3 linked regions of the Homo sapiens genome follow. The protein of the gene in region 2 interacts with the protein of the main gene of each other region in a biochemical or structural test. Each region holds a gene or a part of one and is shown on either strand. Other genes may lie near its edges. The genes, in order: LYN, ERBB4 and LRIG1.

Region 1 (3,654 bases), on a different chromosome or scaffold from region 2:
AGCCTCAGGGGCCATGGTAGCACATCACATGCAGCACACCACGCATATCACAAAACATTCTTTTATGAGATTGTATGTTTATCAGGTGTCAGATTATATACATAATCTGACTATATAATCTTTCTCTACAGACAGATTATAGAAAGAGATGTAGGCATAGATGGAGATAGAGATATATAACATCAGACACTGGGGCTGATTAGAAATATTTTTCCTATTTTGCAGCAATGTTAATTCATTAATCTCAGTGTCTAGAGCAGCTGGAAGATGAAATGCTGGCACTAAAGGGATTTCCTGGGACAGCCGGTCCACTGTGCAGGCAGACACCACCCAAAGGCTTTCAGCTGCCAACTGGTCCCTGCCCCAGTTTCTCTGTGGCTCATCCCCACATGAAACAGTAGTGATGGGAGCACGCAGACTGTGTGGCTGCTCTGTCCAAAAGCCTTCCCTGGTTTGCATCTCAGCAGAGTAAGAGGGGCTGCTCTTACATGGCCAGTAAGTCTCTCCCTGAGCCACTCTAACCCCCAGCTACATAGCCTTCTTTCTCATCCATCGACTGTCTAGAGATCAAATGGCCTAGGTGCGTCATTCATTCATTCATTCATTCACCCATCCATCCATCAAATACTCACAGAGGCCCAAACCACGCTGGCCTCCTGCTCCTGTTGGCCAAGCCCATGCTCTGGCTGCTCTCCCCATGGGGACATGCAGACCTCAGAGAGCCCAAGACTCCCTCCCTCTGTGAGTCCCTGCTGCTGCCAGGACCATGGAATAAAACCAGCAGCTCCCCACCCCCTTCTGTGAGTACTCGCCAATCCCTAAGCCACTCCACGCAGGCTCCACACTACTCTCACCACCCTACAGGATGGCTGTGTGTTTGATAAACATCAGTCTCTCCCCACTACAATATTCACTCTCAAGGACATGGGCAGATACCATGGCATCCTAGCAGCTGAGAGTGCCTAGCATACTCAAATATTTTTTGAATAGGAGAAAGATTTAAACATTAAAAATTTAATTTTAAATTCCCCTCATGCAAATATTTTGTTAATAGTCAAACATAAATGAAAATATGAAGGCTCTGGGAGAAATCCCTCTTTTTTTTTTTTTTTTTTTTTTTTTTTTGAGACAGAGTCTCACTCTGTCGCCATGGCTAGAGTGCAGGGGTGCAGTCTCGGCTCACTGCAACCTGTGCTTCCCAGGTTGAAGTGATTCTCCTGCCTCAGCCTCCCAAGTAGGTGGGATTACAGATGCCCACCACTACGCCCAGCTAATTTTTTGTATTTTTAGTAATGACGGGGTTTCACCATGTTGGCCAGGCTGGTCTCGAACTCCTGACCTCGTGATTCACCCACCTCAGCCTCCCAAAGTGCTGGGATTACAGGTGTAAGCCACTGCACCTGGCCGAAATCCCTCTTCTTAACCATGCCAGCACAGACCATGGAAAAATGGAGGGATGGTCAGAATCTGGCTCTGCAGGCTTCAGGTGTTAGGAATCTGGAAATAAATACTGAATGATGCCCTCACTGATACCAGTATGTTAAAGAGCAGAAGGGCCTCCCACTGATAAACAAAGGTGGTTATTTCTTGAAGAGAGAGAGACTCCAGGGCACTTATTACAAAACCAAGCATCGGAAATCCTTGTCTCCATGTGGGTTTCCTCCTTCCAGTCAGGGGGACTGCCTTGGAGGAGCCCCTGTGTCTATCCATCCTCATCTCGACACCAACAACCATGCCCGGAACATTCTAGTATGTGGTGGAATTAATCAGTGCAGAACAAGAACACACACTCAAAATAAGGAGGCAAAGAAGTGTCTAAGCACTCTTAGAACAATTTATGCTAAAGATAGTGAAAATAAAAATCAAGTCTTTTTTTTGTTTCGAGATGGAGTCTCACTCTGTCGTGTAGGCTGGAGTGGAATGGCGCGATCTCAGCTCACTGCAACCTCCACCTCCCGGGTTCAAGCAATTCTCCTGTCTCAGCCTCCCGAGTAGCTGGGATTACAGGCATGCGTCACCATGCCTGGCTAATTTTGTAATTTTAGTAGAGACGGGGTTTCTCCATGTTGGTCAGTCTGGTCTCCAACTCCCGACCTCAGGTGATCCACCTGCCTCGGCCTCCCAAAGTGCTGGGATTACAGGCGTGAGCCACCATGCCCAGCCCGTGAAAATCAAGTTCTGGCTCAAAGCACTTATTCTTTGCTATCGGGTAGATGAAGTAATTATTACTTTTTAATGCCTTCATGCAACCTGACTTTTTCTCATTTATACAGCTTGATTGTAAATAGCTAAGTAAACCATACCTGGGTAGGGAATTTTCCCATAGGTGACAATTTCGTATAGGAGGATTCCAAAGGACCACACATCAGACTTAATAGTGAAACATCCAAAGTTGATTGCTTCTGGAGCCGTCCACTTAATAGGGAACTTAGCACCTAAGGAAGAAGATATGTGGTTCTTACTTGGGTATTTAAACTTAAACAAAAAAGTCATGAACATGTGACCCCATACTTTCTTTTCTTTTCTTTTTTTGAGGCGGAGTTTCACTCTTGTCACCCAGGCTGGAATGTAATGATGCGATCTCGGCTCACTGCAACCTTCACCTCCCAGGTTCAAAATAATAAAATAATAATAATCCTTGTTCAACAATGCTTAGGAATTTCAAGAAAGTGCTTGTCTCTTCCAGAAGACAGTGAGCACTGCAAAAATATTTGCTCAGCTCTCGTGGGTGAGAGCATAAGAATCCTCAGTCATAACCACGTGGGCAATCCTAGCCCAAGAAAGGCCCTGCAGTCCCGACCATGCTTGGCCCCCTGACAATGTGCCACAGGCTGGGGAACTTAGGCCTCTCTGTGCATTTTTGGTTCATATATATAATACAGAATGTGGGAAAATAAAGAAGTAGATTTTTTGCATTATATTTAGTTCTGTGTGTATGGTAATGTTCATGTTTTAATTTGTAATTAAAAGGCTGGAATAAACAATATAGAATTAATGTTACAAATATTTTCTCCACAGCCCCGTATATTATATTCATTGTTTGAGTGAAAACTTTAACAATACAAAATAAACAAGAATCATCTTGCTGAATCTATTTGTGTTTTGCATTGCTTAATTGAAATACAACTGATAGCATTTGTAAGCCTAACAAAAGTATCATGTGGAGTTAATCAAGAGAGTACCTTCTAGAAACTATTAGAATAGAACCATAAGCAGACAATTATGGTACAGCTTAAATGTTGTACCAAATAAGTTTTTCTTAATGGTGACTATTGTAATTGCTTTGTCAAAAACAGACAAAAACAAAATAAAACACAATAATAAAACATCTAAAGATCATTAGTGCAACATACCTTCCCTTGCTGTGTACTCATTATCTTCAATTACTCTAGCAAGGCCAAAATCTGCAATTTTGCACATGAGTGACTCGGAGACCAGAACATTAGCTGCTCGCAGGTCCCGGTGAATGTAGTTCTTCCGCTCGATGTATGCCATTCCCTCTGCAATCTGAAAACAGAAATAGGCTCCCATTTTCATATGTAGGGTAGGTGACTGGAAAGTGCCATCAAGGAAAACCGGAAAACTTATGAATTCCTGAAATCTTTTCATGTATACTATTTTGATCATTCAGCTTTTAAAGACAGTGGGTAATGG
Region 2 (3,654 bases):
TAAGAATTTGGTGTACATCGTGTAGCTGCCTTTGTAGATGTGTTTTTATCTCAGCTGATAATCCGAAATTGAGATATCATGCATCAACAGTAGCTTTCAATTTTTATCTGAAGGATTTACCTGGGCACATAAATTATGCTTCTGGATGTGGAGGTGATCTTTACTTCCCTGATTATTGGTCATGTACTAAAAAGTCAGAATTATAGTGATGATCCTCTAGTTAGGTACTAGAGCCTCAAATTCATAATAACCACAGAATTTTCGAAGGGAATAAAGACATAGGATTATTCAAAATATATCCATGTACTTCTATTCTTAATGACAACTGTCTATAATTAATGACACTTGCATTTATCATAAAAATTCACTTTGAAATTTGTATTAAATATAGGCACTTGTGGGAAAAGGGCATCAAATACATTTTATTAGAATATGTTTCAGTTGGTTAATAAAACTAGAATGTGTATTTCAAAATTATTTTCTGATGATTTATCTTTTAAGAAAAGTGGAAATTTTAGGTGTTTATAGTTTGTAACTCCATTAGCCACTAGGGGAAAAAAAACCAGTAAATACTATGACTATTCTCTGAAAGACTGGCTTTGATATCCTTGTGGCTATTAACATTCATTTTTAAACTATTTCTAACAACGCCTTCTCTCCACATATGTTTCTCTTATTAACAGAACCAGTTTGTATACCGAGATGGAGGTTTTGCTGCTGAACAAGGAGTGTCTGTGCCCTACAGAGCCCCAACTAGCACAATTCCAGAAGCTCCTGTGGCACAGGGTGCTACTGCTGAGATTTTTGATGACTCCTGCTGTAATGGCACCCTACGCAAGCCAGTGGCACCCCATGTCCAAGAGGACAGTAGCACCCAGAGGTACAGTGCTGACCCCACCGTGTTTGCCCCAGAACGGAGCCCACGAGGAGAGCTGGATGAGGAAGGTTACATGACTCCTATGCGAGACAAACCCAAACAAGGTATGAACTGATTATTCAGAAACGATCGCCATTCGAAGTTCACTTCCATCAAGATAAACAAAGTACAGAATAGAAATTGCCAGATAGCTGACCAGCACAACATTTGTGATCCAGTAAAGGCCTAGGCTACTGCTACTTGTAGTATGGTCCCTGAATCAGCAGCATCCACATTATTTATTATTATTTATATAAATCAGAATCTCAGGCAGGCCCCGTCTGAATAGGAATCTGGATTTTAACAAGATCCCCAGGCTATCTGCATACAGCAATCAGTCTTGAGAAGCACTATTCTAAACATATTTTGTTGAAATATTTGAATGAAGTAGCATACTACAAAGTGTCAGGACCATAGCTTTATTGGACTTAATTGCGGAGATCAGAAAGACTGGTATTGTTGGCAAAAGTGCCTGATGCTTTTGATGGCACTAATAAAAGATTTGTTTGACTCATTTAAATGATGACATTTAAACAACCTAGTTTATTATAGGAAAATATTATGTTCTTATATGACGTTTTTCAAAAATTAAAGGTTTGACCCTGTATATACTTACAAGCATACCACCAAGATTTGAAAATAATAATCTGTGGTTTTACAAAGCATAACAATAATTTTGTAAAGTTAGTAGTAGAAATGTTAAGCACCCAAATCAAATAATGCTTCAATTTTGCAACAAAACAGCCTTTCTTCTTCTATGCTAACAGTATCACAACAGAGAAGATAGATGATTGTTATTAAAAAATGATGATCATGTCTCTCGCAGTCTTTAGTGTCAACAGTAAACTACATTTTAAGACTCTGAGAAGGGCCTGGTATATGGTTATGTTCTCTCCTTTAAAGTAAAATTTAGAGATCTCTAATTGTAAATAACCTTTTAAAATATATCTGTCTAGATAAAATTTTTACATATCTAAAACTTCTATACATATAAAAATGTAATGAAGAGTTTGGATGCTCATAGTAGCCTAGTAATGACACAAATGTAGACGTTGTGAAGACTTGGCAGATTCACCCCAAAGAAGAATCTTTTCTGGGGAGATTTTCACTCCAACCGTAAAGTTATTGGACAGCTATATAAGTTTGCATGAGGACAATATATAAGTAGATTGCATTGAGGAAAGGTAAGGTGAAGAGAAAAGCAAGTCACCCTATAGAGTCACACTGTATTCTCAGATTTTATCTCTGAACACTAAGCTCCGTTTCTATAAAAGGTTGCTATAGTCTAACCTCGTACTCAGAGAGTACAGAATTTTAGTGTAGACATTCCTATTCTTTCAATTAAGAAGTTTAAGGAATCTGGTAAGAGAGACCAAATTCTGCATTCCTTATAAATGTTTTCATACACTTGTCAAATTAAAACTTGTTACTAAGCATAAAGTTCACCCAACTCCTGCAGGGGCAATAATAAAAAACAGTGCAGTAGAATAAGAAGATTATGCAAGAGGAGTTAGAAGACCTGAATTCTATCCCAACACTAATTGTATCCTGCACACATCATTTAATCTCATTTTTCTGTCTACAAAGCTGGAAAAATAAGTCTTGTACTTCTTTTTCACAGAATTGGGAGGATGAAATGATAGTGTCTTGTAAAGGCCTATATATGATAGTGGGATATTCATTACTGCCCTTTAAGTTGAATAAATGATGCTAAATACTTACCTATTCTGTATATATATATTTGGAGAAAAATAATCCTCACTTAATAGGATTTTTCTCTCTACTTATTGGGCTAAGGATAAAAGACAGAAAGTTTGTTTCAGAATGGCCTCTCAACAAAGAATTGTGCCCTCTTCATGCCTTGAATTCAAAATAGGAATAGCTTAGGGCTTTGTGTATATAGTAAAAGAGAGGACTGTCAGAGGACTTACAATACATGCGTGTTTATGTCTATGTGCAGTCTATATTATAGACATAGATGTGGAATTAAGCTTCAGGAGAATGGTGATAATTATTAGCACCTTTTAGGCCAATACCTATACTAGATGGATTTATTAGATTGATCCGTACAAAATAGGCACTAATTGACTGGTTTCAATATACAAAATTTATTTTATTTTATATAATTCAAGCTGATAGTTTGCTACTTTGTGATTATGATTGGTCAATGGAAATATTATAATTATACTTTACTATTAAGTAGAAGTATATGTAATGTCAAGCAGGTCAACTAGAGGCATGTTAGCTATCTGTTAGATTTGCTTTTTTAGTTGAATTTTTTTCCTTTGATGCTTTCTTTTCCATGTGTAAAACCTTTTTCAGAAGCATCTCCAATTAAATCCTTGTTACCAGTATAGGCAATCATAGCAAACCATAGAGACTAAAAAACATGATTTCTTCACTCCATCTATTCATCTTGGCATGGAACTCAGCTATAGATTCTTGTTTTTTCAATATCCTTTATAGAAGTTAAGTTGTCTGTATATTTAAAGACTATTTAATCCTAATAGGTAGTCTTATTTCCTAATATAAATAACTTTTAGAAAACAAAAACATTGAAACAACCAGCCCCATATGCAGAAGAGACAAATGCAATTAGAAAGAAAGAAAAATTTAGGAGATAGAAATTCTGATTCTGGCCTCGTTGGCTTCTTGTTTTATTATAAACATTTTTGACCCACTTACTCTTTTTTTCATAAGACAATGGTGATCCACAAATACTTGTTGTGAGAAATCAT
Region 3 (3,654 bases), on a different chromosome or scaffold from region 2:
CATAAGACAGATCGGTATGAAAAGTCAGTTTGGAGAGCTGCTGCCATGTTCGCAGTGGGTTTAAGACGTGTCCCTGGTCTGGATCCAGAGGAAGTTCAGCAGGCCTGTTCTCAAAAGTGGTGATGGTGAAGGTAGGGGTGGATGCATGGAGAGGGCACACACATCTTGCCTCCAGCAGGCACACTGGCTACTCCAGCAGGCACAATGGCTATTGCTATGGCCAGAAAGTAGGAGACAGAAGTGGCCCACAAGGGTTGCCATATGGATGGGTGAGTTCCTGGTTAGGATCCTCACAGCAGGGATCTCAAGGCTCAAGGGAGACCAGTGAGCACAAAAGGCAGGAGGGACTTAACACCTGCCCAGCAGTTCCAGTCAGGCCTGGGAATCCCACTCTTGCTCCTGCTTAGAGCAAGCAAACAGGAAAAACTCAAAATTCATCTCATTTTTTGACCATGTCTTCCTGACCGTGAGCCTGTGTCAGTCCTGTCTGAGCTAGCCTGCGTGTGTGTTTTCAGCTGTTCAGCATTTTCTGTGCTCTCTGCAACCAAACTTGGATCCCGACTCCCAGTCAAAAAGATGGCAAGAGCTACGCTCCAGGAATCAGAAGGCAAAAAGAATGTAAAGCTGCAAGTGCAGATTTCAGTGGTTTGGAGAAACAGCAAGAGTACAAGTCAACATCAAGGAATTATTTTTACTACAGCAACTGTTCTCCTGAGACTTGTTCTTCCTGTATTTAACCTTTCATTCTTGGGGTCGGAAAGAAACACACATTAAAACGCCAGCCTCGTACGCGGAGTACATTCGCAGCTAAACCCGGGCACCAGAGCCCTTCTGAAACAACAGAACTATCTTCCTGTAACTGATTATTCTGATTTGTAACTGAACCAACTTATACTCCCTTCTGATTAAATGCATGTCCTCCAAGAACCACATAATGAGGCAACTCTACGGTAAATACTGTGTGTGGTTTCAGCAAGAAATAAATTGCATCCAGCAGCTGATCTGTAACCACGGGCTGGGGTTTACTCTGATCACAGGAATTACTCCCATAATGAAGAGTACCTCCTGGCTTCCTTGTCCTTCATGAAGGAGAGAAAAAGTTACAAAGACAGTCTTACCGCACACGAAACTCTCTGGTGGCACAGAGAAAATGCTCTGACCCTTCAGTGATTCTGGGTGGGCACAGGTGGCTGTCACAAAGGCCTGCAGCATCCTGCCAATTAGCCACGGGGGCAGCCACTTCAGCTGGCAGTCACACAGGAAGCTGTCGCTGCTGATATGGCTGAAAGAAACACAACAGTGGATGCTTCAGGTGCAGCCGCAAAGGAGGGACACTCCCTTCACACACACAATGATCAGTCGCCTCCAATCAGCTTCTCAAGTGAACATCAGCAAGCTGGAAGGGGGAAATGGTTTTTCTCACACTTCCTCTCCAATTTCCCAGGGCAGTGCATATAACCCACCTGGAGATTTTGAAAAAATGCAGTTGCTGATTGGGTGGGTCAGGAGTGGAACCCACGACTCTGCTAACAAGTTCACGTATCATGCTGGGGCTGCTGACCCAAGGACCGCAACTGGAGCAGCAGCAACGTGGAGCTTATCCATGCCATGTTCTGGGACAGACACTGTTCCTGTGTGACCCTGGGCTGCCTTCTGACCTCTCCTGACCTCTGATACATCCAACAGTGCTATGCTGCCACCATCCCCCCTCTGGTTTTTCCCACTTTCCTGATAAACTACTTGGAGCTTCCAAACTCGGCCTGAGACTTTGATCCAAATTCTGCAACAAGTTCCGAGGAGGGCTCTTTTGCCTCATGGCTGTTCCTTTTCCATTTGGCAAAGCTGCATGTTTTCTTACTTCCAAATGTAATAAGCCCCGTCACTGTGCCACCCTCTTGTTTGTGCCTTGATCTTTGCACCAGTATTCTTCAGGGGGCCGGCAGAATTCGGCTCTGCTCCCTAAATAGTGCTTGTTAGTTAATTGCCACTGCCCAGGGAGCATGAGAATGCACAACTTTAGCTTTGTGGGGCTCCAACCAAAACAGAGAATATTTTCTTTTTCATTTCTCAGCAACTAAGGATAAGCTTTTTAAACAGAAATCGGAATCGCCATCTCAGCGGACATTCCTTCCTGAGGAGTCACTTGAAGATAAGTCAACCAAGAGTCTAGCTGCCTTGTTCCTGGAAGACCTCAGAGCTGTGAGCTAAAGAATGATGGCTGGCCCACGATAAGGGAAGACTGGGAAAGAGAGCACACAGGCTTCCCTGCAATACACTGTCTCTGGTACATGGTGACAAACAGGAGGCACAGGTATGCGCAGAAATTCCAAAAACATCATGCAGGCCAAGAGCACGACTTTGGCTGCCTTCTCCACCCACCACTGTCCTCAGACATCAACAAAGCAACCAAATGGACTGGCCTTCCATTTTCTTCTGTTTCTCTCCAGATTTCTAATGAGCAGAGAAACTGTCACAGCAAGGAAGAATGAAGTGTAAGCAGATGACCCAAGGCTAAATTAAGTAAAATCCACTCTTCCTCATGTTCCCCATCACCCCTAGATGAGTTGGGCATCTTATTAAAATAATTATAATTTTGGAAAGTGCTTTTCCAAAAACAGAAATAACTTATCTCAAGGCCATTATAACTGGGATGCTGGCCCATATTAGATCTTAAAATCAGCATGAGAGTTTGCATTTTTATTTCACGGGCAGGTAGCGTTCTGCTGAGAGCCATCTGGAGGGCTGTCCTACTGTGGAGTCACTGCAGGTGGCGGAAGGGCTGTAACGGCCATCCCTGAGGAAATGGTCAATTCCCATGCAGTGTTTGGGGAGGGCAGCTCCCAGGAGTGCACCCTGCATGGGGGTCAGGGCTGGCTGCGCCAGGCATGGGGGGAACTCAGCCTGGATGGAGAACTCTCCGCTGTCAGAAGCACCTCCAGCTCCCCAGCAAGAGGGCACTTCCGTGCAGTCAGGCAGAACAGCCTGGGCACTGTTCACGAAAGCCTAGGAGAGAAGGCTGGGCCATCCCTGTGCGACGTTAAGCATTTGTGCAGGACACAAGGACATATTCCATTTGAACCACAGGAACAAACGGGAAAACAAATTTGACATTTATCTTTGATCAGACACATGTAGAAAGGGCTAAGCCTCATCCTACACACGCCCTGGACGTGTGGGGCTAACGCCTTTGAGGATTTCCTACTTCTTCCACCATGAAACCCACCTCAGACAGGAGGCCAGACTCCAGGAAGACAGTGGGTACTCAGGGTGGAGACAGCATGTTCCTAAACAGCAAGTTAGGACTGAGAGGATACATGGGGAGGGCCTGGGGCCAGGCAGTAGCGAGGATTCCAACCCCTAGGCTCTGCAGGCTCCTGCCGCCCTTCTTCCACCCGTGGAGAGCACAGCGCCATCGGCTCTACTGCCTTCTGCTGCCATCCCAGGGCTTTGCTGGCTCACATGGTGCATTTTCACGATTCCAACTCAAAGTGTGTTTCTAATCATCACTTGTGGAAATTTACCCAGAGGATGACTAAGTGCACAGTACAACCTGACTTGATCTGATGGAGAAAAAGACGACCAAGTGGAATTAACCATTTCTCTCATCTGAGGACTGGGCACAGGGCCGGCTCCAGCGAGGTATATGCAGCAACG

What was found.
Region 1: the proteins of ERBB4 (region 2) and LYN form a complex in vitro, tested with the Homo sapiens proteins (one large-scale study listed by BioGRID).
Region 3: the proteins of ERBB4 (region 2) and LRIG1 form a complex in vitro, tested with the Homo sapiens proteins (one study listed by BioGRID).

Annotation. Positions count from the first base shown.
Region 1 is NC_000008.11:55,998,199-56,001,852, reverse strand, and holds part of LYN (tyrosine-protein kinase Lyn), read right to left. Parts: intron 3,508-3,654; coding exon 3,354-3,507; intron 2,436-3,353; coding exon 2,304-2,435; intron 1-2,303. UniProt on the Homo sapiens protein: Non-receptor tyrosine-protein kinase that transmits signals from cell surface receptors and plays an important role in the regulation of innate and adaptive immune responses, hematopoiesis, responses to growth factors and cytokines, integrin signaling, but also responses to DNA damage and genotoxic agents.
Region 2 is NC_000002.12:211,384,180-211,387,833, reverse strand, and holds part of ERBB4 (receptor tyrosine-protein kinase erbB-4 isoform JM-a/CYT-1 precursor), read left to right. Parts: intron 1-683; coding exon 684-981; intron 982-3,654. UniProt on the Homo sapiens protein: Tyrosine-protein kinase that plays an essential role as cell surface receptor for neuregulins and EGF family members and regulates development of the heart, the central nervous system and the mammary gland, gene transcription, cell proliferation, differentiation, migration and apoptosis.
Region 3 is NC_000003.12:66,392,922-66,396,575, forward strand, and holds part of LRIG1 (leucine-rich repeats and immunoglobulin-like domains protein 1 isoform 1 precursor), read right to left. Parts: intron 1,283-3,654; coding exon 1,119-1,282; intron 1-1,118. UniProt on the Homo sapiens protein: Acts as a feedback negative regulator of signaling by receptor tyrosine kinases, through a mechanism that involves enhancement of receptor ubiquitination and accelerated intracellular degradation.